Linked DNA regions of Homo sapiens. The protein of the gene in region 1 purifies or fractionates together with the protein of each later gene. This does not show direct contact. Each region holds a gene or a part of one and is shown in the gene's direction. Other genes may lie near its edges.

Region 1 (3,500 bases):
ATACTTGAGGGGAGTGACCGGCACTTCCCTGGTCACCATCTGATGGATTGTGTGCTTTCTGAACAAATAGAGGGTGCTTTCTCCTTGAGGCAGGGCCCAGGGTTTAAGAGTCATCAGCTCAGTGCTCATTTAACATTTATTGAGCCCATACTTTGTGCCAGATGTTGTGCAGGGTTTTGGGGATGCGGTGGTGACCAAAACAGTTAAAAATCCCTGCCCATTTGGAGCTTGATCTTAGTGGGGGAGGCAGGTGGTAATAATATTAAAAATGCCATGTGTGATAATTGATTTGAAGGGAAATAAAGCAGGGTAAGGGTACTGTGGCCAAAGTAGGCCCTTCTGGGGAACTAACATTTTATCAGAGACCAGAATGCAGTGAAGGAGCGAGTGAGCCATGCACATGTCTGCAGGAGCCAGGCAGTGGGAACAGCACGTGGTAAAGATTTAGAAGCTGGACTGTGTATGCTTGGTGGGGAAGAGCATGGGGCCCAGCATAAAGAGAATGAAGTCAGGGAAGTCAGCACAGGCCAGATCCTTAGGATGATGATACTCAATGTGGGCTGCACCTTGGAGTCACCTGGAGAGCTTTAGGGGAAGACCTTGCGCCCAGAACAATGAAATCAGAATTTAAAGCCTAAAGATTTTAGGCTTTGATTTCAGGCTTTGTAAGCCAGGGAAAGGACTTTTTATTTCATTTTGGATGTGGTGGAAAACCATTGGAGGGATTTGGGCAAGGGCATGATGAGATCTTACTTGCTGTTTTAAAAATAGCATGTATTAGCTGCTGTGTGAAAAGTGGACTGTAGAGGGAGTAGAAGATTAAAAGTAAACAACTTTTGGTTGTTTGGGAGTTTTGAAAATGAAACCGTTCATTTTTAAAGATTAAATTAGGAATGGCTGTTAAAAGACACATTTTTTATCTTTAATACCATTAAGGTGCATGAAGGGTTCGTAGGACAAGATCATAATGTATCTTTACAAAAAACATGAGCAAGGCTGGGCGCGCTGGCTCACGCCTGTAATCCCAGCACTTTGGGAGGCTGAGGCGGGCGGATCAAGAGGTCAGGAGATTGAGACCATCCTGGCTAACACGGTGAAACCCCTTCTCTACTAAAAATACAAAAAAATTAGCCGGGCATGGTGGTGGGCGCCTGTAGTCCCAGCTACTGGGGAGGCTGAGGCAGGAGAAAGGCGTGAACCTGGGAGGTGGAGCTTGCAGTGAGCCGAGATCGTGTCACTGCACTCCAGCCTGGGTGACAGAGTGAGACTCCGTCTCAAAAAAAAAAAAAAGCAAGCTTATGATTGAATAGATTACATCATGTGAGAATGTGAGATAATTTTAAACCACTAGTTTTCCAACTATTTTTTTTAACTTGTGTGATTTAGTACTTCTGAGTTTTTGAAACCAAATCAGAGAAAATATTGAATCTGTTAGCACCAGAGTTCTGTTTTAAACGTTGTTTTGTGCTAATGGTGTTTGTTGTCCTGAACTGGTAAGAATAAAGCCTGTCTGAGTCTGTTATTTCTTAAACATTTCGATCTTACTGACAAGTCGCAAACTACTTGTAAAGTGCAGCCTATCCTTAAATGACAGTTTGTTCTGCTTTTTCTTGTTTTTCCCCTGAGCTGAGAGGGACTTCTTTAAGCTTGGAAGCAGGGAGATGAGTTAGGGCTGACATCATCCTGTATTCCCCTCTGTTTTGGGGCTGGGGTTGACACTTTTCTTCCAGCTCCAAGGTCAGGAGTGGGAGAGTATGAAGACGTTTGCAGAGTCTAGGGGGCCCTGTTGTCACAGCATGTGCTCGTATGCAGGGCTCACTCTTCACAGTAATTAATATTGACATGGAATGAATTCTGTGAATCTGCTATGCAACCAAGGAAACCAGGATATTAACAGTAACCTACATCTATTCATGTACTCCTCCCCTATCCCAACCCCATATTAATATCTCCTTCCCATTCACCAATATCATGAGTTTTACATTTCTCATTCCCTTGCTCCTTTTCTTGGGCAGTATGATTGTGGCTGGGTGTGGTGCCTGACACCTGTAATCCCAGCACTTCAGGAGGCCAAGGCAGGAGGATCACTTGAGCCAGGAGCTGGAGACTAGCCTGGGCAACATAGTGAGACCCCCATCTCTACACTATGGGAGTAGTGGCACACACCTGTAATCTAGCTACTTCAGAGACCGAGGCAGGAGAATTGCTTGAGCCCAGGAGTTCGAGGCTGCGGTGAGCTGTGATTGTGCCATTGCTCTCCAACCTGGGCGGCACAGCAAGACCCTGTCTCAAAAAAAAAGCACTAAGCAAAAAAAATTATTATGATTTTAACATTTATTAGTCTGTTGTGTATAACTGAAGGTCATTTTCATGATCTTGATTGTGAATGTCTTCTATTTTATTTGCCCATTCTATTGATGGACATTTGGGTTAGTCTTCACTTTTCTTTTGCTGTGGACATTCTTGGAAATGTGTCCTGCTGTACACGGGCACATGTATTTCAGGTTTCTCACCTGAGAGGTATTGCTGGGTACAAGGTGGTTTAACCTTTTAAGCTTCATTGCCCTGACTCCTGTTTTGTTTCCCCCACAGGATTCAGTCCCCGTGGGGGTGGCTTTGGCGGCCGAGGGGGCTTTGGTGACCGTGGTGGTCGTGGAGGCCGAGGGGGCTTTGGCGGGGGCCGAGGTCGAGGCGGAGGCTTTAGAGGTCGTGGACGAGGAGGAGGTGGAGGCGGCGGCGGCGGTGGAGGAGGAGGAAGAGGTGGTAAGATTGGCTAGGGGTTACAGAGGAGGCCTTCCTGAGGTGGGGAGTGGGGAGGGCGGAGATTCAGGATCTTTCTCTCCTGTTGTACCTCTCCTTTATAGGTGGAGGCTTCCATTCTGGTGGCAACCGGGGTCGTGGTCGGGGAGGAAAAAGAGGAAACCAGTCGGGGAAGAATGTGATGGTGGAGCCGCATCGGCATGAGGGTGAGTGAGGAAGGCAGGGAGCCGGCTGAGCTTCGGGGCAGGGAGAGGCTGGGGGTCCTCACCCCTGCTCTGATCCCCTCACCCAGGTGTCTTCATTTGTCGAGGAAAGGAAGATGCACTGGTCACCAAGAACCTGGTCCCTGGGGAATCAGTTTATGGAGAGAAGAGAGTCTCGATTTCGGTGAGAACTGGGCCCCTGTCCAAGCCACCAGGGTCGCAGCTGAGGGTGTAGCCAGTAGTCTGTGTCTGCCCTCACCATGTGTCCTGCACGTGACAGCTGGAGGATTGTCATAATATGTAAACCACACTGTCTGCTCCCTCATCCGCCTTCTGTGACTCCCCACGGCCTTCCAGTTAGACTCCTGAGTCTTCACTCAGGCCTCCAAGACCCTGTGCATTCCAGTTCCCCCTCCCTGCCCCCTGGCTTTGTCTCCTTCACTAACTCTCTGACCAAGTGTCCTCCAGCCACCCTGGCCTTGCTGTTCCCACTCCCAGCTCTGTGGGAGGCTGCGTCCTTATCATCTGCTTCTCCAG
Region 2 (3,500 bases), on another chromosome or scaffold:
TGTCACCCAGGCTGGAGTGCAGTGGTGCGATCTTGGCTCATTGCAGTCTCTGCCTCCTGGGCTCAAGCGATCCTACCATCTCAGCCTCCAGAGTAGCTGGGACTACTACACCATGCCTGGCTAATTTTTGTAGTTTTTGTAGAGTCAGGGTCTCGCTGTATTGCCCAGACTGGTCTCGAACTCCTGGACTCAGGCGATCTGCCCACCTCAATCTCCCAAAGTGCTGGGATTAGAGGCATGAGCCACCATGCCCTGCCCCTGCTGTTACTTCTTATAAGTGAATAGCCAAGTTCCCTATTGCCTATGACAGCATTAATATGAGTAACAAACAGCAAAGACTCCAGCTTCTAATCATATTTGAGGTAGTGAAAAGGAGTCATTTGTACCTAATTAATTTTTACCTGTCAGATTGGGGTACATTCATGTGGATTTAGGGTAGAAATAACCTTTTTGGGTTGCAACTTTAGAGAAATCGTTTGTGTTATTAAGGGAATTAATTAAAGGCCAGCCTTCCAGAGAAAGCGAGAATTGAGGTAGGGTTAGGATGGGCTTGGGGAGGTCTAGCCAGTATGGAACTTTCCTGGACATTCGCAAAGTTCATCTCCTGGGTCACAGGATGTACAACTACCCATTTTACATTCTTATCACTCTCACTCACTCATTTTCTGATACTTGTTGAGAATCTTTATCCCATGCCTGCCAAAGGGAGATTGTGCTGTGTTAAGGAATGCAATCAATGAAGCTTTTATCACAGTAGTATGTCCAGGGTTAGTTACCTGACACAAGCTTTTAGGGAATGTAATTGTCACAGGACCTGAGGCGATATTTTTAATGATTGTTCAGTTTGTTTTTTTGTTATTTTCTGCTCTGAGTAAAGTTTTCTCTCATGTATTGAGATGCTTTTTTTTCTCTTCACAATATAGCAAATGGAAAGGCGACAATAGCAGTGTCAGTTCCCTATGTATCAGCCCAGATGGAAAGATGTTGCTTTCAGCTGGTCGAACAATCAAACTATGGGTTTTGGAGACCAAAGAAGTCTACAGGGTGAGCGAATCAAATTATTTGTAAGCATAAAAATTATAGAGTAAACACAGAGAAAGGCAGAAGTTTGAACCATAAGATATTATTTTAAGAATACAAATTCTTCATTGTCAGGTACATCAAATAGTTTAGTGGATAAAAGTTAGCCTCCTAATCTGATTTGTTGATGTTAAAGAGACTAGACATGTCTACTTCAAACGTATTGGAAAAATGAACAGAACCAATATTCAAGAAACAAGATTTTTTTTTTTTTTTTTTTTTTTGAGATGGAGTCTCACTCTGTCACCCAGGCTGGAGTGCAGTGGCGTGATCTCGGCTCACTGCAAGCTCCGCCTCCCAGGTTCACCGCCATTCTCCTGCCTCAGCCTCCCGAGTAGCTGGGACTACAGGCGCCCGCCACCACGCGTGGCTAATTTTTTGTATTTTTTAGTAGAGACAGGGTTTCACCGTGTTAGCTATGATGGTCTCGATCTCCTGGCCTCGTGATCTGCCTGCCTCGGCCTCCCAAAGTGTTGGGATTACAGGCGTGAGCCACCGCGCCCAGCCGAAACAAGGTTTTTTTAAAATTTAAATTTTATTATATACACCAACTATGTATCCACAAAAAAGAAAGTTACCTTTTAAAAAACAAAACAGATTTTGACACAGGGTCTCTCTCTGTCGCCCAGGCTGGACTGCAGTGACGCCATCATAGCTCATTGCAGCCTTGACCTCCCAGGCTCAAGCGATGTCTCACCTCAGCCTCCTGAGTAGCTGGGAGTATAGGCGCTTGCCACCAGGCCTAGCTCAAAAAAGATTTTCTTAATAAAAAAGTTTTTACTATGTGATGATTATGGTAATTTTGATTTCTAGCCTACATCCAGCATTTAGTCCACTTACTGTATTTGACTGTGGAGATTTAGTATTATATTTTTGGAGGAGGAAAAAGCTTTCACTCAGGGCTTACGGAATATTTGGTGCTGTGATGATGCCTTAATATTGTGGTTTCGACTCACTGAGAGTAAAATGAGGACCTACAATTCCTTGGCTGTGTCTGAGCACCCAAAGTATGCCTTTTAAAATGGATAGAATTAAGTGAATCTTTAATTCAAGAATGTAAGAAACAAAGGTGCGGAGTGGTAGGGTCATGGGAGTTAGAAGGAACATCTAAATTTTCAGTATTTTCAGATGGATTTTTTTAAAAAGTGGGAGAATTATAGCACAAATAACCTTATTTGCTTAGAATTGAATTGAACAGTTACTTCATCGTGGAGCTCTCCTTTCCGATATGTATCACATATGGCTTGTTTTGATAATATATACTATTAATTTTTGTCCCTGCTTTGAATCTGCTCTCCTAACTGAGATTTAACTTTCTCTAGCATTTCACAGGACATGCAACGCCAGTTTCGTCACTGATGTTCACTACCATCAGACCTCCTAATGAGAGCCAGCCCTTTGATGGAATTACAGGTCTTTATTTCTTATCTGGAGCAGTACATGACCGGTTACTTAATGTCTGGTATGTAGTTCTTTTGGATTTGGGAGGTAGCATTGAAAGAATCTGTCAGAGCTTATGTAGTTAATGTAAATTATGAATATGGGACTTTATTTGTTGTATCTAATGTTGGATTTACATTGAGTCATAATAAAAAATTGAGCCTGCCTACAAAACAGATCTTTCTGAGAAAAAATTAAGTGCATTATGTATTAAAGCCTCCTGTGGTTGTTTAGTGATACAGTGGACTGAACATTTCTGTGGTTGGGCAATTTAGAATATCTTTTAAAAAATTTAGAAAGACCTTTGATTTTGAAATATATGGCACCACTGGGTTAATGCAGTAGTGTCTGTTTATGGAGGGCATAAAATTGCTTGGCTGTCTCAGAATTTCCAGTAACTCCTTTTTGCAGTAGCTGCTATTAACTAGTTCCCTTTGAAACCTCTTTTAAAAGTAAAAATCAGGCCGGGTGCCGTGGCTCATGCCTGTCATCCCAGCACTTTGGGAGGCCGAGGCGGGCGGATCACGAGGTGAAGAGATCGAGATCATCCTGGCCAACATGGTGAAACCCTGTCTCTACTAAAAATACAAAAATTAGCCGGGCATGGTGGCGCACGCCTGTAGTCCCAGCTACTCGGGAGGCTGAGGCAGGAGAATTGCTTGGACTCAGGAGGCGGAGGTTGCAGTGAGCCGAGATCCCGCCACTGCACTCTAGCCTGGCGACAGAGCGAAACTCCATCTCAAAAAATAAAAAATTTGGTGATACAAAGTCATCAAAAAGTTTTTAAAGAAATTTCCTGGATTTTATTGCAGCATCTGATGGTGAAGTTGGCTTGAAAAAAAAACCACCTTGCTGTTTATGGACAGTTCTCATCTTAGTAATAATTAGTTGAGCATGCTCTTCACCATATAAAGTTACTATGAATTTATACAAGATAATACTCATTTAGAAGTGGGACTCATCCAATATGTATTCCTTAA
Region 3 (3,500 bases), on another chromosome or scaffold:
GATACTGGTGGGTGCTGGCATTCCTGGCTATGGCCCATGTCCTTCCAGTCTACGAAAGCAGCATTTTCAGTTCTCTCTGCCATGTCTTCTTCTTCTTCCTCTTTTTTGGAGACAGAGTCTTGCTCTGTTGCCTAGGCTGGATGCAGCGACGTGATCTTGGCTCATTGCAACCTCCGCTTCCTGAGTTCAAGCAAGATTATCCTGCCTCAGCCTCCTGAGTAGTTGGGACTACGGGCGCGTGCCACCACGCCCAGCTAACTTTTGTATTTTTAGTAGAGACGGGGTTTCACCATGTTGGCCAGGCTGGTTTCGAACTCCTGACCTCAGGTGATCTGCCCACCTTGGCCTCCCAAAGTGCTGGGATTACAGGTGTGAGCCACTGTGCCCGGCCTCTCCGCTTGTCTTCTCATTGCCTTCAGTGTGTGTCTCGTTCTTATAAGGATACATGTGATTGCACTGTGGTCCACCCAGATAATTCGGAATAATCCTCCCTCTCAAGATCCTTAATTTAATCATATCTACAAAGACTTCTTCTTTTTTTTTTTTTTTTTTTTGCCATATGAGGTAACATTGTCAGATTTCAGGGATCAGGGTGTGGAAGTCTTTTGTGGGGCAATAGTTCAGCTTATCCCACTCAGTCGTTTATAATAGACTTTTAATGTTCTTACTTTTATTTTATAGTTTAGTTTTTAACAGGCCCCCATGTCCACTTCTGGGTTGGTGGGAGATGATGGCATTGGGTGGCAGAGAAAATATCTCATCTTTTCTAGATACGATGCAGAAAATTCTAGGTCTGTGGTTCTAGGAAGGACAAATCAGAGATGATAGTTTGGAAATAAAACAGTTAAAGTAACCTAGCTTGAGAACAGAGGTAGGTGTGGTGGTGCTATTTTTTAAAGAATAGAGAATTTAGAAGAGTCACAAGCTAGTTTCAGGTATGGGGAGGAGGAGATATGTAGAGTGTGGGACATACTGAGTTTTCAGAAGTTCTGAAATATGGTAAAATTAGTAATGGTGGATATATTTTTGGCAAATGCATGTTCAGTGGATTGTTGGTGTAGAAGTCACTTTATACTAGATTAAAGATTAAATTGAAGATGGGGAGTATTGATACATTCTATTCTCTAGAATAATGATGCTTGGCATTTAGTAAGTAATCAGTGTTGGCTATTATGATAATTACTGTGGTTGCTCTAACAAATTACTTTGTTATATACTTTTATGTGTATATACTTTTATGTGTTCCAATACTATAACATTTTTGTCTTCAGCTGTTTGGTGTGTGTCTTGATATGTACATAATATTAAATAAATACTGATCTAGAAAGATGTGTGTTTTAGTAATTATTTTAATTATTGCCATTGCCATACTATTAAAATTAATGAAAACAATTTAGAATTTTTTTTAAAAAAAAGAATTAGTTTCAATTTCTCATTTGAATAGATTATTATTTCTCAAAAAAAGCAGTGAGGTTGGGGGGCACTTAGCAATAGTTTCCTAAAGATTAAAATGATGGTATTCTGGTTGAATGGTTTTTTTATGTTATATCAAGAAATATAATTTGGTTTGTGTTTTTTCATTTAAAATAATAGTGTATTGTAGCTATGGTTATTCATGCCTGAAACAAAAAATTAAACCTTGGTCATTGTGTGTATTTCTTTCAGGTTTGATTTAATTTTGGATGAGATCGTTCTTGCAGCAAGATGTTAATAAGACAAAATCTAGGTAAGTAGAAGACTGCTTTGTTAAATGTACATATCAAGGTAGGAATAATACAAAAAAATTATGTCTTAAAAATGTGGTGTTGAGTTCAGAACCAAAGAGTTTTTAAATAAAATTTTGAAATGCAAATAATTGACTTTTTGACACACTTGGTCCAGTTGATTTGATGGGAGTAAAATTATAACTATCACATTGTGGAACTAAATTTTTAGTTTCCTTCTTTTGTGTTGAGGTTAACTAAAGCATTCAAGTTTCCAGTGAATATTCTAAAATGTTAGAAAATCAAGTTAATGTTTGGTTCAGCCACTCTTATTGAACTCTGACCACTTCAGTAAGACATTTATTGTGTCACTTCATTGTTCTCTCCTTTGTTGATAAAGTATATGAATAGTCATTGCTTTTGTGAATTTTGCTTCATTTTTAATGTTAAGGAAGCACTTTCCCAAATGGGATAAATTTGCCAAATTGTGATTTCTTTCTGTTAATATAGTATTCAAAATTGTAAATTATTGTTTTAATGTTTTCCTAGTGGGTGTCTCTACTGAATGACCTCTCTAATATAGCATTCTGATTAGCTTTCTAAGGCTGTTCACTTTTAAAAAATTGAATTGGCATCATGTACTTTGGTATGTGAAAGAATGCTTTTTAATAATATAAGCCGTTGACATGTTTTAAAAAGATACATTTACTATTTATTGGTAAGTGAATATGGCTTCAAAATGGAAACAAGGGAAAAAGAACATTGAAAAAATTGGAGTTAACTTGGTTTTCCCTCTAACCAGATGTTTCAGCTGTCAAAAATTTGCTGATCTCAATGTTTGTTAAAGAAAAAAAAAGTCTAGGATGAAAAGTGCTGTAGTTCAGTAATATGCACTGAAGGAAATCTCAGTCAGTGGTTTGGGCATGTTTTGAAGCAAAATTTTGCTTTTATTGCTATTATATAATAATAACAGTAGTGGTAGTTTGAAGAGTACTTATTGTGCTCTAAATTCTGTTAAGTGCTTGTCATACCTTATTGATCGTTATAGTACCTCCTCTTGTTGTGTAGAAAAATTTTATTTTTTGCTTTATAGTGGGCTGTTTTTCTTTAGGAATAATAATTTACTTCTGTAGCATTTATTAGAAATAACACTTGCCTATGTATCTTCTTAAAGTGGAGAAGAAGCCATTCTTTTGTACTTGAAGGTCTTATTAGGGTTTGTTTTCTAGTTGAATATACAGTGTCTGTTAAAACTTTTGTTCTGATTTTCTATGTTTGATATTGCTTGTGGGATGACACTGGTTTAACTTATTCTGACCTTATTTTTCACCATGCTTATATATGTAGTTTTTTCTTTTTTATTATGGTATAGTTTACATATATATGGTAACATAAAATTTGAGGTATAGAGCTGAATGACTTTTCACATACACATTCATATGTGTAACCACCATCTAGATCAAGATATAGAACATTTCATTACTTTGGAAAGTTCCTTGTGCTTTCCCCGCTTCCAGTCTAATAGCCTTTTCCCCTGAAGTAATCATCTTTCTGAATTCTGTCAGCATAATTTAGTTTTGCCTGTTCTTGGATTTTATATATAGTATGTACTCTTGTATGTGGCTTTTTCATTCAACATAATGTTCTTGAGCTTCATCTATGTTGTGACTATGTCAGCAGTTCATTATTTTTTATTGCTGTTTTATTTTTAGTAATATTCCATTGTATGAACACACTACAAAGTATTTATGTTTTCTCAGTGATTTGGTTTATTGGATTCTCCATATCTCTGTTCCT
Region 4 (3,980 bases), about 20 Mb from region 1:
AAACAACAAAGTAAAGGTATGTTTAAAAAGTTTTAAAAAGCGTGTGGTCGCAGTGGCTCACGCCTGTAATCCCAGCACTTTGAGAGGCTGATGCGGGCGGATCACCCGAGGTCAGAAGTTAGAGACCAGCCTGACCAATATGAAGAAGCCCCATCTATACTAAAGACACAAAATTAGCTGGTCGTGGTGGCACATGCCTGTACTCCCAGCTACTCGGGAGGCTGAGGCAGGAGAATTGCTTGAACCTGGGAGGCAAATGTTGTAGTGAGCCAAAATCGTGCCATTGCACTCCAGCCTAGGCAGCAAGAGCAAAAACTCCATCTCAAAAAAAAAGGTTTTTTTTTAATTATAAAAATTAAAAGGGGGAAATTGTAAAATACAATAAAATTCCTCTTCAAAGGTTTAGTCTTAACTTTCTTGTTCTTTGTTCTCAAACTCAACTTGCTTGTTCTCCATGCCTCCTTGCCCCTAGTTACTGTAACAACCTTCCTTCCCAACAGCTCTAATCAATAATTCACATCTGTTCCCTTGATTACTCACTCTGCAGCCTTCCCACCCTTCAAAACCACACGTCCCACCACTGTGACTTATACATGCCCCTTCCCTTCCTTATTTGGAAAAATATTTACAAATAGCCAATCGGGTCAGTTTAGATTGTGGGGTCCGACCCTAGCCCATGGGGGAGTAACACAGAGGAAGAGACTTTACGTTAAAAATAAAAACCCCTTCCCTCCTTTGTTCAGGGTGCTCTTGCGATCGTGATTAATGCAAACAAAAACCTTTTGCAGAAGTAAATTGCCTTACTAAAAAAACTTTTGCCTGAGTACTGGTTTCACTTTGCGACACCAAACACTTTACTTCCAACGGTATTATTAATATGACAACGAAATACTTCTGTTCACCTTTTCAATACATTCAAAAAGAGAGAGTAAAAAAGAGAATGTTCCCATGCTCTGGGGTGGACGTGGCTCAGCTCAGAGAGGAAGCCCTGGCTGAAAAGGCTGCAGCTTAGGCTGTTACTCTTCTTCACTCAGCCCAGCATGTGATCACATCTTCTGTCACTCAGGTCCTGAGGGGGCGGGACCTTAAGAATTATCCAATCAGGGACGCTGGGCTGGAAACGTCCAATCAGGCAAGCAGCCGGACCGAACAGGGCGGCTTCTGGTTTGGCGGGTCCTTTGTCTCTCGGTGCAGCCGGAGCTCCAGGTCTCCTCTTCACTACTCTGTGTCCTGTGCTCCTACAGGCCCAGCCTCTGTGGCCCTGTGACCTGCAGGTATTGGGAGATCCACAGCTAAGACACCAGGACCCCTGGAAGCCTAGAAATGGTGAGAGTGCCGGTCCGACATCCCAAGCGACGGGGAGGGGCTGGTTGGAACCGGTGGAAAGTGACGGTGGCGGGACTCAGGTATCCCCTTAGTCAGCTCCACAATCTGCGCCGGAGTTCTTGCCCAGCTCGGCCTCGGTTCCCTTCAGCCATAAGATGGCGGCTGCGCTTATAGCGCAGCCCCCAGGCGTCCTGTCTCTTCACTGTGCGGTGACTGTGCCCTGGCTTGGAGCCCTCGCTGGGCAGCTGCGCACCCGCAGAGCCGCTTCTCTCCCAGATTGTGCAGAGACCACGGGAGAGTCGTCAGGGGAGAATCCTGACTCGGAGTGCGGGTTCACGAATGGGAAGAGCTTTAGTGGGTTGGGTTCACAGTTTCTCTTTTCTCCTATTAAAAATTTATGGGGCTGGGCAAGGTGGCTCACTCCTGTAATCGCAGCAGTTTGGGAGGCCGAGGCGGGCGGATCACTTGAGGAGTTGTTAGGGCAGCTAAGTTCCTCTTCAGAGACTCAACTTCCTGGTCATAAGTTGTAAAAATTGTAAATCAACCCTACCCCTTCTTTTTCCCCATTCTCCTTTTCTCAAAACATCGCGCGTTTACCCTATATGGAAAAAGTTTGTGTCTAGCCCAACCAGGATCAGCTTAGATTGTGCGGTGGGACCTCAGCCAATATGGGAAGGACACAAAAACCGGAACTGCGTTAGGGTTAAATCCCCTTCCTGGCCCAGCGCGGTGGCTGATGCCTGTAATCCCAGCACTTTGTGAGGCCGTGGCGGGTGGATCACAAGGTCAGGAGTTCTAGGCCAGCCTGGCCAACATAGTGAAACCCCGTCTCTACTAAAAATACAAAAATTAGCCGGGATTGGTGGCAGGCGTCTGTAATCCCAGCTACTTGGGAGGCTGACGCACGAGAATTGCTTGAACCTGGGAGGCGAGGTGCAGTGAGCCGAGAGCTTGCCATTGTACTCCAGCCTTGGTGACAAAGTGAGACTCCGTCTTAAAAAAAAAATAGACATCTTAAAATTTCCTTCCCTTATGTAAATACTGTGTTTGAGTAATTTCACGGATTTTTCAAACACTGAGTTTCAAAAACCAAGTGAATAACTCTGACATGACAAAGCTTGAGCCTAGTGACTCCAAGCTAAGGCTAATATTAAGCCTAAAACAGAAGGTTTTTTTTTTGGACAGAGTTTTGCGTTTTGCTCTTGTTGCCCAGGTGGAGTACAGTGGCGCAATCATGGCTCACTGAAATCTCCACCTCCTGGGTTCAAGCGATTCTCCTGCCTCAGCCTCTCAAGTAGCTGGGATTACAGGCATGCACCATCATGCTTGGCTGATTTTGTGTTTTTAGTAGAGACGGGTTTTCTCCATGTTGGTCAGGCTGGTCTCGAGCTCCCGGCCTCTGGTGATCTGCCTGCCTTGGCCTCCTGAAGTGCTGGGATTACAGGCATGAGCCACAGGGCCCAGCCAACAGGAGTTTATAAAGTCCTATTTAGCTTTTTCTGGGGAGCCTCCCCTGCAGATGTCCCAGCCTATTCACCGGAGCCATGGAAGGAGGCGTTATTCTGAGAGAAGGTACAGAGCCCCAGAAAGCTGGGGCCCCACAAGCAGATGCAGTTAAGGTTAAGATGAAAGGAAACTGGGAGGATCTTTTTTTTTTTTTTTTGAGATGGAGTCTCGCTCTGTCGCCCAGGCTGGAGTGCAGTGGTGCGATCTCGACTCACTGCAAGCTCCGCCTCCCGGGTTCACGCCATTCTCCTGCCTGAGCCTCCCGAGTAGCTGGGACTACAGGCACCCACCACCACGCCCGGCTAATTAAAAAAAATTTTTTTAATAGAGACGGGGTTTCACCGTGTGAGCCAGGATGGTCTCGATCTCATGACCTCATGGTCCACCCGCCTCGGCCTCCCAAAGTGCTGGGATTACAGGCGTGAGCCACCGCGCCCGGCCTTTGGGAGGATCTTACTGACGATGAAGTTGTTATTGTTTTGAGGAACATTTTAGACTTTGTAAAATAAAAACGTTAATTTATGTAAAAGATGAATTTCAAAAAAGTATTACAACAGGAGGAAGTACCAACTAACTCTAAAATCTTTATGGCTTGCAAAAATGTAGGCAGAAAAGGGCTTTTCTCCCTAGGGAGGAGCAAACAAGATTAGAAAGGAGGTGGGAGGGGAATGGCAAATGGAGGGTGAAAAAGTCAGATTTTACATCAGAGAATGTCTTACCCTGAAATCAGCATGTTCTTAGGAGGGATGTAAAGTGGGGCTGTATGTTGACTCAGAGTGAGGGTAGCTCAAAGTTCAGGAGCCTGAGGAAGGGAGATAAACCTAAGTAAAGTTTGATTAGGAAATATTTTATTTTAGGCCTGGCCCGGTGGCTTATGCCTTTGGGAGGCCAGCACTGGGATTACCAGTGCTGGTAATCCCAGCACTTTGGGAGGCCAAGGCGGACAGGTCACGAGGTCAGGAGATCGAGACCATCCTGGCCAACGTGGTGAAACTCCATCGTTACTAAAAATACAAAAATTAACTCAGCATGTTGGCGCCCACCTGTATTCCCAGCTACTCAGGAGGCTGAGGCAGGAGAATCGCTAGAACCCGAGAAGCAGAGGTTGCAGTGAGCCAGATCAAGCCACAGCACTCCAGCTTGGCGAC
Region 5 (3,500 bases), on another chromosome or scaffold:
AGTGATTGGTTAGGAGGCTCTATTTTTAAGTTAGTGTTTTGTCATTTGTAACGAATAAGTATCTTTTGGTAGTATGCACTGGGACTATGTAAATATCTTAGTACTCTTCAAAGTTATTACCTGCTGCTTTTATATTTTATGATGATACTTGCCTGAATCAGTTATTAGTATGATGGTTGCCAAATGCATGTTGATTATCCTTAATCCAAAAATTTGAAACCCAAAATGCTCCTAAGTCTGAAACTTTTTGAGAGCCAACATGACGTTAACAGGGAAATATTCATTGGAACATTTCCGATTTCAGATTTTCAGATTAGGAACATTCACCTGGTTATACATATAGTCCAAAATCCAAAAAAATCCGGAATCTGAAACACTTCTGGTCTCAAACATTTCAGATAAAGCATAGTCAGCCTATAGTGATTTTCTTTTGCCATCATTCCTTCTACTGTAAGGAGAAGTTTTCCCTTTTCTCACATTTTGGTATTTCTTTCCAATGGAAGGGTTTTTTTTTAAACTATCTAATAGAATAAAACATTTCTCAGGGCAGAGAGGTACTTGTTTTACCATCAAATATGGTTCTTGTGAGAGAAACAGAAGACCTACAAGGACTGTAATGTGTATGTGTATTAAACTTATATTTTAATAATAGATTAGAAGGCAGAAGAAAGGCATTGGAACTTAAGTTGAATACAAAAGTGAATGATAAACTTATAAAACAGGGTTATGCAAACAAATACTAATATGGAATTTGCAGCATGAAAAGTACAACAATCCTGTGTCTACTAACCCTCCTGCCCCAAAAGAGGAAATGAAAAGGTCAGTGTGACCAGGATACTGAGAGAAGAATCATATGTCACGTGAGAAATGCTAAAGATTGATAGGCATATTTCCCTTGGAGAAGACTGTAGAAACAATATTGTCTTTAAATGTTTTAGGAATAGGCATATAGAATACCATATGTAATATTTTTGGGTTGGTCCAAAGGGTAGAGTTAGAGATTTAGATTTTGAGTTACTTTTAAAATTTTTCTGGAGTTATTAGTGAACTTGATGTTCCAGAAGATACTCACATGGGTTAGGCATGTGGCTCACGCCTGTAATCCCAGCACTTTGGAAGGCCGAGGTGGGCAGATCACCTGAGGTCAGGAGTTCAAGACCAGCCTGTCTAACATGGCAAAACCCTGTCTCTTCTAAAAATACAAAAATTAGCCGGGTGTGGTGGTGCACTCCTATAATCCCAGCTACTTGGGAGGCTGAGGCAGGAGAATCAGTTAAACCTGGGAGGCGGATGTTGCAGTGTGCCAAGATTGCATCACTGCACTCCAGCCTGAGTGACACAGCAAGACTCCGTCTCTCAAAAAAAAGAAAAAAAAAAAGATGTTCACGTGAAGACTGGATGACTATCTGTCAGAGCTTTGTGTTTCAAATGACAGTTTTTTCCAAATAACCTCAAAAAGCTTGTTTTCATTTCTCTAGGATTATGTTTTTATTTCTGCAAATCCTAGACATTCTCTTAGGGAAGGACAAGGTGATTTCCTATCCTTAGTTTGATAGTTACTATTAGATATCTAAAATATTTTAGTTAAAATTTTATACACTGATTCTCAACTTTGATCTTTATTTATATATTTTTTTAAATTATAGCCATGAAAAATGTTATATGTATACTTGAGGTTTCTCTTTAACATCTTAAAAATCCCTGTTTCTTTCATTTTGTATTTTCTGCTAGGTAATTCTGTTCCACAGGATATCTGCTGTATGGCAGCTGATGGCAGATTAGTCTTTGCTGCTTATGGAAATGTTTTCTCTGCATTTGCCCGTAATAAAGAGGTTGGTATCGCTAAACTACTTGTTTGTCAGTCAGTATTTGTTTGTCATGATAGTGGAGGGAACTTTAATTTTGTCATTCTTTACCCAGCACACTCTGGAACTATACAGTATTCTTTTTTTTCTAATGTATATTCAGTTTTCTGGAGGAAGATAAATTTTCAGAAAAGGCTTACTTAAAACTGGTGCTTTACTTCAGTTTCTTTGCCAGAGATGAATATCAAAATTACTTGGAGACCTTCTTCAAAATTTTTTATGCCGTTAGTTCCCATCTCAGGAGTTTTCTATTTTGTATATTTGTTGAGATAGGACATAATGTGTATTATTAAGTGTAGTTTTAAAATACTTTCCTAGAAAATTCATATTTGCACCACCACTTTATGTGGATTGGTTATTTATTATGTATAACTTAGCTTATAACTCTTTTTCTAAAAATCAGATGCCTGTTCGCTGTTTAGAGAAAGCTAGATTCTATGTTTTCTCCACTGCTAAGGAAAGATCTTTTCTGGTCTAAATCTACCAGTTGGTTTCTGAATTTGTCCTGGAACAACTAGCTTGAGAAGTGACCTGGCCTTAATGGTCTAGAATGAAAGGAAATGTAGGAATGGGGGTACAAAGATAGCCAAATGATAGTATCACTGTACTTGTCAGGGACTTGGAGTGAGGTGGTTCCCACAGTCTTTCATCATCACTTCCTGTGGCAGAGGAAGGTAACTTATCTGTAGAGTTCTTTAATGGAAGGTGTTCAGATTTTTAGAATTGGAAAAAATGTTCATTTTTGTATTGTTGTTTATAGTTTTCCCAGGGAGATATATGTGATTTACATGAGGAGACTTTATCCTATATGTATAACCTATATGTGGTTCAGATGTGGAGACTTTAATAAAGGACCTTTATGCACAGGTGTGGTCAGGGTTAGGGGAACAAAATAGGGGTGGGGAGGCGTCAGACACTGTCAACTGTAGGAAGTTGTTACCACCCCTAAGGCCAAAGGGCCAAGGAGAGGAAACAGTGTTACTGGAATCTAGTGAGAACTGAAACCATGGAGAAGGGGCTATACTTATGGAGGGATCAGCTACTGTAAGGATCTCTGTCAAAGCAGAAGGGTATGGGGAAGAAGACCCTATATCCCCCTTTCCCATCTCATCTGAAAGCCAGTTGGTGATGGAGTCTTTAGAGATCAGCCTTCTGGAATATACCATCTCGCTAGGATATATGTAGTTGCACTGATTGAATTGGGTGAGGGAACTAGGTGTGTGTGCATGCCTCCTCTCTAACCCAAGATGGAAGGCAGAGCCTCAGAGGTCTCATTTCTTTGTTCTTAATGGACAGTTTACTTCCTTATTGTTGAACTGGCTGAGGGAGCAGATGAACATGCCTGGTCCCTTAATATTTATGTGTTCATCCTAACCTTGAATAATCAAAAGTTGGGGTACATTTCTTAACAGAAGCATCTCAGGATTAGCATGTTTTTGGGATAATATGAATAATATGACATGATGACTGAGTAATAATATGAAATTCTTTTAAACTTCGATGTTTTAGATAGTACATACCTTTAAGGGTCATAAGGCAGAAATCCATTTCTTGCAACCCTTTGGAGACCACATTATCTCTGTTGATACTGATGGCATTCTTATTATTTGGCACATATATTCAGAAGGTAAGAGT
Region 6 (3,931 bases), on another chromosome or scaffold:
CTTCAAAAACTTTCCTCCCCGTCTAATTAGGAATAAATAGTAACTTCTCTTAAAAGCAAAATTTATTCAAAGATCTGTGCTAACATTCTTAAATATCTGCTAGCCATAATAAAAAAAAATGTACTTTATGTTCTTAGCTCCCACAATTTAGCCTAAATATTTGCCCTGGCATGCTTTTACTAGTCCAAGCAAGCATTAGGTCATAGCCTGTTCCTCTTCCTTATTTAAAAGTGTTTTCATCTTTCTCAGCATTCCACAAGTTACTTCCTCCTTCCTTTGTTCTCCTCTACCTTTGCCTCTTTTAAAAAGTTCTAAGTTGCTAGCCAATCGGGACAAATACAAAATGTGAGGTCCGGTCCAGCCAATAAAAACCAGCCACAGCAGTAAGGTAAACACGTCAGGTTATAAATGACCCTGTCTCCTTTTGTTCAGTGTACTCTCCTGGCAAAACTGCTGGCGAGTGTACCCTTTCTGCAGAAAGTAAAAATGGCCTTATTCAGTAAGTTAAATTTATGTTGCTATTTCTTTACGACACCGGAAAACAAACATTTCAAACACCATGCTGAGAACTCAGTCCTTGTTTTGGGGAGGGATGCACTTGGAAGATTCGAGCTAAGGTACAATCCTCCCTAGGTATCCGCGGGTCATTGTTTTCAGGACCCCCACAGATACCAACATCCGCCATGCTCAAGCCCCTTACATTATGTGGGGGTGCACGGTGGGTCCTTCCCATCCGCAGGTTCGGCATCCGTGGATGGGGAGTGGATACAGAGGGCGGACTATACAGCTTGAAAGGCTTCCCTGGAAGCAATATGTAGAGTGGATTGTGGAGGAGCAAGAACAGAAGCGGGGAGGCTTGTCCAGAGCATACAGGGGAAGGATGTACGGCCAAGGGAGGAATCCCAGACGACCGCGATACGTGACATATTTATGTTTGCACGAAAATAAAGTTTGGAAGAAAAGTGTTGGGGGAACAAGGGATTCATTTTCCCGGGGTAGTTGGAATGCAATGGGACGCCTCAGGCCGCTGGGACAGGCTGGCCTCCGCGCGGGGGCGCCCGAGCAGCCGAGCCGCCGGGCCTTCCGGCTGCCCCGCCGGAAGTGCTCTCCTGACCCGCCGCTGTGCAGCGCAGCGCACCGCGGGAAGATGGCGTTGGAGGTCGGCGATATGGAAGATGGGCAGCTTTCCGACTCGGATTCCGACATGACGGTCGCACCCAGCGACAGGCCGCTGCAATTGCCAGTGAGTGTGAAAGGAGGGTGGGTGATCGTGGCTGGGCGCGCGGAGCCTGGGCCCCGGGGAGCGCGCAGGCAGCGGTGAGGGTGAGGGGTGGGAGCTAGGAGCCCGGGCCAGAGCGAGGAGCCCAGGCTGTCGGGTCAGTGGCCGCAGAAGGGGCGAGCAGACGTCCCCCAGGCGGGCTCACGGAGCCCGGGCTGCGGGGGCCGAGGGGCGAGGGGCGACGGCGGCAGCGGCAGCGGCTGGCCGTGCGAACCCCGAACTGGCTGCTCCCTGCGAGGCGGGGCGCGCGAGCCCTGGCGCCTCCTGGAGGCCGGCTTGCGGCGGCCTCTTAGACGTCTCACCTCCGCCTACCGCTCTTTCTTTTCTAAACTTGGGGCTTCCCCACTCCATCGCCGCTAGGTAACCATAAAGGGGCAGATTTTGCCAAATATGTAGCATCTAGGGACATCAGCCTGAAACAGCCTGTGATGCTCATTTTCTCCCTGAGCCGAAGGGAGACTGAGGCCCAGGAATGAAGTTTATCGCTCACTCAAAGATCTGGTTTTCCATGTTTCCACCGAACCTAGCTTTGTCATGCGGTACCATGGCACTAGGCTTTTGCATTAGCCTCTCTGATTTTGTTTGTTGTTTTGAGGTGGTCTCACGCTGTTGCCCAGGCTGGAGTGCAGTGGCGCGATCTCGGCTCACTGCAACCTCCGCCTCCCGGGTTCAAGCGATTCTCCTGCCTCAGCCTCCCGAGTAGCTGGGATTACATGCGCCCGCTGCCACGCCCGGTTAATTTTTGTATTTTTGGTAGACGCGGGGTTTCACCATGTTGCCCAGGCTGGTCTCGAACTCCTGACCTCAAGTGATCGGCCTGCCTCGGCCTCCAAAAGTGCTGAGATTACAGGTGTGAACCACGGCGCCCGGCCACATCCAGCTAATTTTGTATTTTTAGTTGAGACGAGATTTCTCCATGTTGGTCAGGCTGGTCTCGAACTCCCAACCTCAGGTGATCCGCCCGCCTCGGCCTCCCAAAGTGTTGGGATTACAGGCGTGAGCCACCTCGCCCGGCCTAATTTTTGTATTTTTAGTAGAGACGGGGGTTCTCCATGTTGGCCAGGCTGGTCTTGAACTTCCGACCTCAAGTGATCCACCCGCCTCGGCCTCCCAAAGTGCTGGGACTACAGGCGCGAGCCACCGCGCCCGGCCCAGCTTCCCTGCTTTCTAAACGGGAATTTGTCTTGACTGCCTTGGTAGGTAGCAACCTCTTTGAGAGGGCGTTGGTGCCAGGCTGCCTGTGTTCAGATCCTGGGGCCACCGATGTGTGACCTACAGCAGGTTTATTTAGCCTCACTGCTTTTTGTCTACCTCTGTGGAATTGGCATGATGTACCACTGATAGGGTTATTGCAAGGATTCTGTGGAGCATACAGTGTGCAGTAATGCCTGGTAAGTGTTATCTCTGATTATTATTTGAAGATAGGAAGATAGATAGTCCCAACTTCCATTTCTAGCGTAGTAGGAGTTTAACAAAGACAAATACTTGCTTTTGCATATAAATGTTTAGGAAATTAGTACCAAGATATTTTGTTTTTCAATCTCAGGTTGTTTTTACATAAATTGACCCATGACTTGGTAAATAAACTTAATGCCGTGGACTCTGGGGTTTTAAAAATATCTTGCCCAGGCTGGGCGCGGTGGCTCACGCCTGTAATCCCAGCACTTTGGGAGGCCGAGGCGGGTGGATCACGAGGTCAGGAGATCGAGACCATCCTGGCTAACGCGGTGAAACCCCCTCTCTACTAAAAATACAAAAAAATTAGCTGGGCGTGGTGGCGGGCGCCTGTAGTCCCAGCTACTCCGGAGGCTGAGGCAGGAGAATGGTGTGAACCCGGGAGGCGGAGCTTGCAGTGAGCCGAGATCGCGCCACTGCACTCCAGCCTGGGTGACAGAGCAAGACTCCCATCTCAAGAAAAAAAAAAAAAATACATGCCCAGCCTGGGCAACTTGGCAAGACCCCGTCTCTACCAAAAAATGCAAAAAAAAAAAAAAAATAGCTGGGTATGGTGAAGGTTGCCTGTAGTCCCAGTCCCTCAGGAGGCTGAGGTAGGAGGATCGCTTGAGCCTGAGAGGTGGTGAGCCATGATAGCTCCACTGCACTCCAGCCTCGGCCACAGAACAAAACTTTGTCTCAAAAAAAAAAAGTAACAATTATTATGTATGTCATTTTAAAACATTCTGACAGTAACTGAAAAGTTTGAAATCTTTTAAAGGTGACAAGAGCTTTGGTAATATAGTAGAAGGAGATCTTAGAACAAAGTGCTGCATTAGTTGTAAAGATAAGAATTTGTGGCTTTTAAATTGGCAAATTCCATGTGGAACTTAGAAAAGTAGGAACTTGATTGGTCTCAGATTTGTCTTTGAAGATCAGTTCCATTTTGGAATGGCAAAGTTGAATCTCTAAATTTTTAAAAATTAGGTAGGTGGAGTTTATGTGTTTTGTGAAATTGATTGTGTTTCTTTTCACTTGCAGAAAGTGCTAGGTGGCGACAGTGCTATGAGGGCCTTCCAGAACACGGCAACTGCATGTGCACCAGTATCACATTATCGAGCTGTTGAAAGTGTGGATTCAAGTGAAGAAAGTTTTTCTGATTCAGATGATGATAGCTGTCTTTGGAAACGCAAACGACAGAAATGTTTTAACCCTCCT
Region 7 (3,500 bases), on another chromosome or scaffold:
TCACTCTGTCGCCCAGACTGGAGTGCAGTGGTGCCATCCCGGCTCACTGCAAGCTCTGCCTCCCAGGTTCACGCCATTCTCCTGCCTCAGCCTCCAGTGTAGCTGGGACTACAGGCGCCCGGCACCACACCTGGCTAATTTTTTGTATTTTTAGTAGAGACAGGGTTTCACCGTGTTAGCCAGGATGGTCTCGATCTCCTGACCTCGTGATCCACTCGCCTCGGCCTCCCAAAGTGCTGGGATTACAGGCGTGAGCCACCGCGCTCGGCCAGAACCCGCACATATTTAAGATTGTTACGAGGAAAAAGATGCACTTCTTTTCAGTGACCTCATAGCACAGAACTAATGTCACTGAGTAGAAACTAAAGTTTAAAAATATTTTTTAAAAAAACCTAGTTTGAGCTAATATTTGACATGAATTGCTGTAAAATCTTTTCAGCCACAGAAGTGTTGGTGGTGATATATGGCCATTAGATTGTGGCAAAGGTTGAAATACGATGGATGATTTGAATTGTATGATTCATAATAGTTTTATAACTCCTGATTTTAAAACATCCAAGTTATTGAGGATTTTACATCTGAACATGGAATATAGTTCTTCATGTTTTTCTATTAGATTTCTCGAATGCTGGCAGCCAAAACCGTTTTGGCTATCCGTTATGATGCTTTTGGTGAGGATTCAAGTTCTGCAATGGGAGTTGAGAACAGAGCCAAATTAGAGGCCAGGTTGAGAACTTTGGAAGACAGAGGGGTAAGAACTACATCATGCCTATTCCAGAAGTATTACTTGTCAAAAGTTAATAAACTGAGTAAATTTATTAACTTCATCTGCTAAACAGTTTTATGATACTTATTAGTATGTCTAAAGTATTCTTTTTGTGCCTACTGTTAACAATTGCTATTATTTACCAAGAATTGATGTATCCAACTGCATTTGCCATTAGGATATGCTATTCAAAATAACAAAACAAAAAATAGCAGAAATTGCTGTTTGCTGGCCCACTGATTCACTAGACTGTATAGTGTATTATAAAGAGATTATGACTTAGAAGTGTATTTGTAATTTTTCGTTTTCTTCTTAGATAAGAAAAATAAGTGGAACAGGAAAAGCATTAGCAAAAACAGAAAAATATGAACACAAAAGGTGAGTACATTTAAGTGAGGATGGGGTGAATAGTTTTTTTAAATGTTAATTATTGACAGTAATTTTTTATTGTAAACTTCACCTTGATGTGCCCATAGTTTTTTCAAATTTATTTATTTGACCAAAATTGTGTATGTTTATTGTGTGTATGTTGTTTTGGAAAATGTGCACATTGAGGAATGATTAAGTCAAGCTCATTAACATGCATTGTCTTATGTACTTTTTTTGTGGTGAGGACACCTTAAAATCTACTTAGCAATTTTCAAGAATATAATACATTGTTAGCTGTAGTTAACCATGTTGTGCACCCCTAATTTTTTTCCATGCCATTTAGTTTTCCGCATTAACTTCTACTAGTTTTCATTCATATACATATTTAATTTATTCATTTCCAGATATTGATAGTAAATTTTTTTAATCTAAAGTTCCTCTATAATATGTTCTTTATCAAAAAGTTCACTCAGCCGGGCACAGTGGCTCATGCCTGTAATCCCAGCACTTTGGGAGGCTGAGGCAGGCAGATCACCTGAGGTCAGGAGTTCAACACAGGCCTGGCCAACATGGTGAAACCCCATCTCTACTAAAAATACAAAAAATTAACTGGGTGTGGTGGCGGGCACCTGGCTGAGGCAGGAGAATTGCTTGAAACCCGGGAGGCGGAGGGTGCAGTGAGCTGAGATCGCGCCCCTGCACTCCAGCCTGGGCAACAAGAGCAAAACTCCGTCTCAAAAAAAGTTCATTCAGAGTTAATCCCTACAGAAACCTATTTTGTAAAAAGTATAAAGACAGAAAACAAGTCTAAAGATGGCTGAGGCATGACAAAGCATTCAAACTTAACTATCAGATTAACAAAAGATTTGTATGTGGAGGGGTATTTGGGTTATTATTTGAGGCAATGCTCAATGCTGGTGAGGTTGTGATGATGCAGGTAGAATGTGGCACAGCTGTTCTAGGAAGCCATTTCACAGTATGTATCAAGATTCTTCAAAATGTTCCTAGTCATTAACCCAATAAATTATACTTTCAGGAGTCATAATCCTTCAAGATTTTTTTTTTTTTTTTTTTTTTTTTTTTGAGACAGTCTGTCTCTGTTGCCAGGCTGGAGTGCAGTGGCACGATTGCGGCTCACTGCAACCTCTGACTCCCCGGTTCAAGTTATGCTCCTGCCTCAGCCTCCCGAGTAGCTAGGATTACAGGCATACACCACCACATCCAGCTAATTTTTGTATTTTTAGTAGAGTCGGGGTTTCATCATGTTGGCCAGGATGGTCTTGATCTCCTGACCTCGTGATCCGCCCGCCTTGGCCTCCCAAAGTGCTGGGATTACAGGCGTGAGCCACAGCACCCGGCCTCCTTCAAGAATTTTAATAGTAAAATCTTATAAGTGGATGAGGAGAGTAATTAATATATAGAACATTACCAATTATAAATACATATTTAAGTATAATTTAGTGTTTTCTGGAAAGAAATCAAATGTGTTTCTGTGGGCATTCACATTTTCTTTTTTGTGAATTTTCCAAGCTTTCTACAATAGCCATACATTCTGCAATATTTATAGTCTATAACTTATTATCTCTAGTTGACAAACATGGTTCTTTGTTTCTTAAATTATAAATGTCTTTAACCTAAAAAAATTAAATAGTCATTCAGCTTACAGGTCTGCTTAAAAAACAGAACATTTTTTAGCTTGTTTTGAACCAATTTTTTTAATGTTCCTGTGCAATTAGTACTTTTTACTTTAAACATATGCACTTAAAGCATCCATTCACATTTTAGGCACTCATTTCAGTATTTTCTTTCTGCTTACATTAGAACAAAAGCAAATGTTGGGTTCTATGGAATCTTTTCCATGTGCATGTATTTGTATCCTTTCTTGTTCTTGTGATCTTGTGATGAAGACTTCTATACTAAGCTTGGTTTAGATTTTTTGTTCTGCTTTTTTTTTTTTTTTTTTCCCCCATTGAGCAGTGTTCTGAAAGTTGGATGGTTCAGTTTTCACTTTCTAGTTAGGTGTGAAGACGTTTTCTCCTTTCATTTCCCCCATGCTGATTGAGTGTTTTCCTGTACCATAGTAACTACATTGATTACTAAATCAGAATTCATTTAGCTCACCACATCTCTTGAATGTGATTGACCTACTTGAAAAATATTAATACCTTTAACTTTTGGAAACTATTAGTCTTCATAAACTACCCCAAAGCCACTAAAATGAAACAACATTGTGTGCTTATGTAAGTATTATCTAATGGCATTTTCTTTATCTCTTGAGAATTATTTCAATTCCAGATACTTGTTAGAGATTTTCTAAAACTTTTTGGGTCTTTCAGTGAAGTGAAGACTTACGATCCTTCTGGTG

The links.
Region 2: the proteins of FBL (region 1) and WDR43 purify together in Homo sapiens (affinity purification with mass spectrometry; 3 studies listed by BioGRID and IntAct, with this or other methods). This does not show direct contact.
Region 3: the proteins of FBL (region 1) and ZNF644 purify together in Homo sapiens (affinity purification with mass spectrometry; 3 studies listed by BioGRID and IntAct, with this or other methods). This does not show direct contact.
Region 4: the proteins of FBL (region 1) and ZNF93 purify together in Homo sapiens (affinity purification with mass spectrometry; 3 studies listed by BioGRID and IntAct, with this or other methods). This does not show direct contact.
Region 5: the proteins of FBL (region 1) and WDR36 purify together in Homo sapiens (affinity purification with mass spectrometry; 4 studies listed by BioGRID and IntAct, with this or other methods). This does not show direct contact.
Region 6: the proteins of FBL (region 1) and PHAX purify together in Homo sapiens (affinity purification with mass spectrometry; 4 studies listed by BioGRID and IntAct, with this or other methods). This does not show direct contact.
Region 7: the proteins of FBL (region 1) and NOP58 purify together in Homo sapiens (affinity purification with mass spectrometry; 9 studies listed by BioGRID and IntAct, with this or other methods). This does not show direct contact.

Annotation. Positions count from the first base shown.
Region 1 is NC_000019.10:39,839,880-39,843,379, reverse strand, and holds part of FBL (rRNA 2'-O-methyltransferase fibrillarin), read left to right. Parts: intron 1-2,592; coding exon 2,593-2,763; intron 2,764-2,864; coding exon 2,865-2,966; intron 2,967-3,052; coding exon 3,053-3,147; intron 3,148-3,500.
Region 2 is NC_000002.12:28,911,667-28,915,166, forward strand, and holds part of WDR43 (WD repeat-containing protein 43), read left to right. Parts: intron 1-923; coding exon 924-1,044; intron 1,045-1,995; exon of another isoform or gene 1,996-2,084; intron 2,085-2,402; coding exon 2,403-2,542; intron 2,543-3,500. UniProt on the Homo sapiens protein: Ribosome biogenesis factor that coordinates hyperactive transcription and ribogenesis. Part of the small subunit (SSU) processome, first precursor of the small eukaryotic ribosomal subunit.
Region 3 is NC_000001.11:90,980,536-90,984,035, reverse strand, and holds part of ZNF644 (zinc finger protein 644), read left to right. Parts: intron 1-1,665; 5' UTR 1,666-1,682; coding exon 1,683-1,726; intron 1,727-3,500.
Region 4 is NC_000019.10:19,899,766-19,903,745, forward strand, and holds the start of ZNF93 (zinc finger protein 93), read left to right. Parts: upstream 1-1,180; 5' UTR 1,181-1,323; coding exon 1,324-1,326; intron 1,327-3,980.
Region 5 is NC_000005.10:111,095,348-111,098,847, forward strand, and holds part of WDR36 (WD repeat-containing protein 36), read left to right. Parts: intron 1-1,731; coding exon 1,732-1,832; intron 1,833-3,374; coding exon 3,375-3,492; intron 3,493-3,500. UniProt on the Homo sapiens protein: Part of the small subunit (SSU) processome, first precursor of the small eukaryotic ribosomal subunit.
Region 6 is NC_000005.10:126,599,816-126,603,746, forward strand, and holds the start of PHAX (phosphorylated adapter RNA export protein), read left to right. Parts: upstream 1-1,131; 5' UTR 1,132-1,147; coding exon 1,148-1,243; intron 1,244-3,754; coding exon 3,755-3,931. UniProt on the Homo sapiens protein: A phosphoprotein adapter involved in the XPO1-mediated U snRNA export from the nucleus.
Region 7 is NC_000002.12:202,296,763-202,300,262, forward strand, and holds part of NOP58 (nucleolar protein 58), read left to right. Parts: intron 1-616; coding exon 617-751; intron 752-1,082; coding exon 1,083-1,144; intron 1,145-3,471; coding exon 3,472-3,500. UniProt on the Homo sapiens protein: Required for the biogenesis of box C/D snoRNAs such as U3, U8 and U14 snoRNAs. Part of the small subunit (SSU) processome, first precursor of the small eukaryotic ribosomal subunit.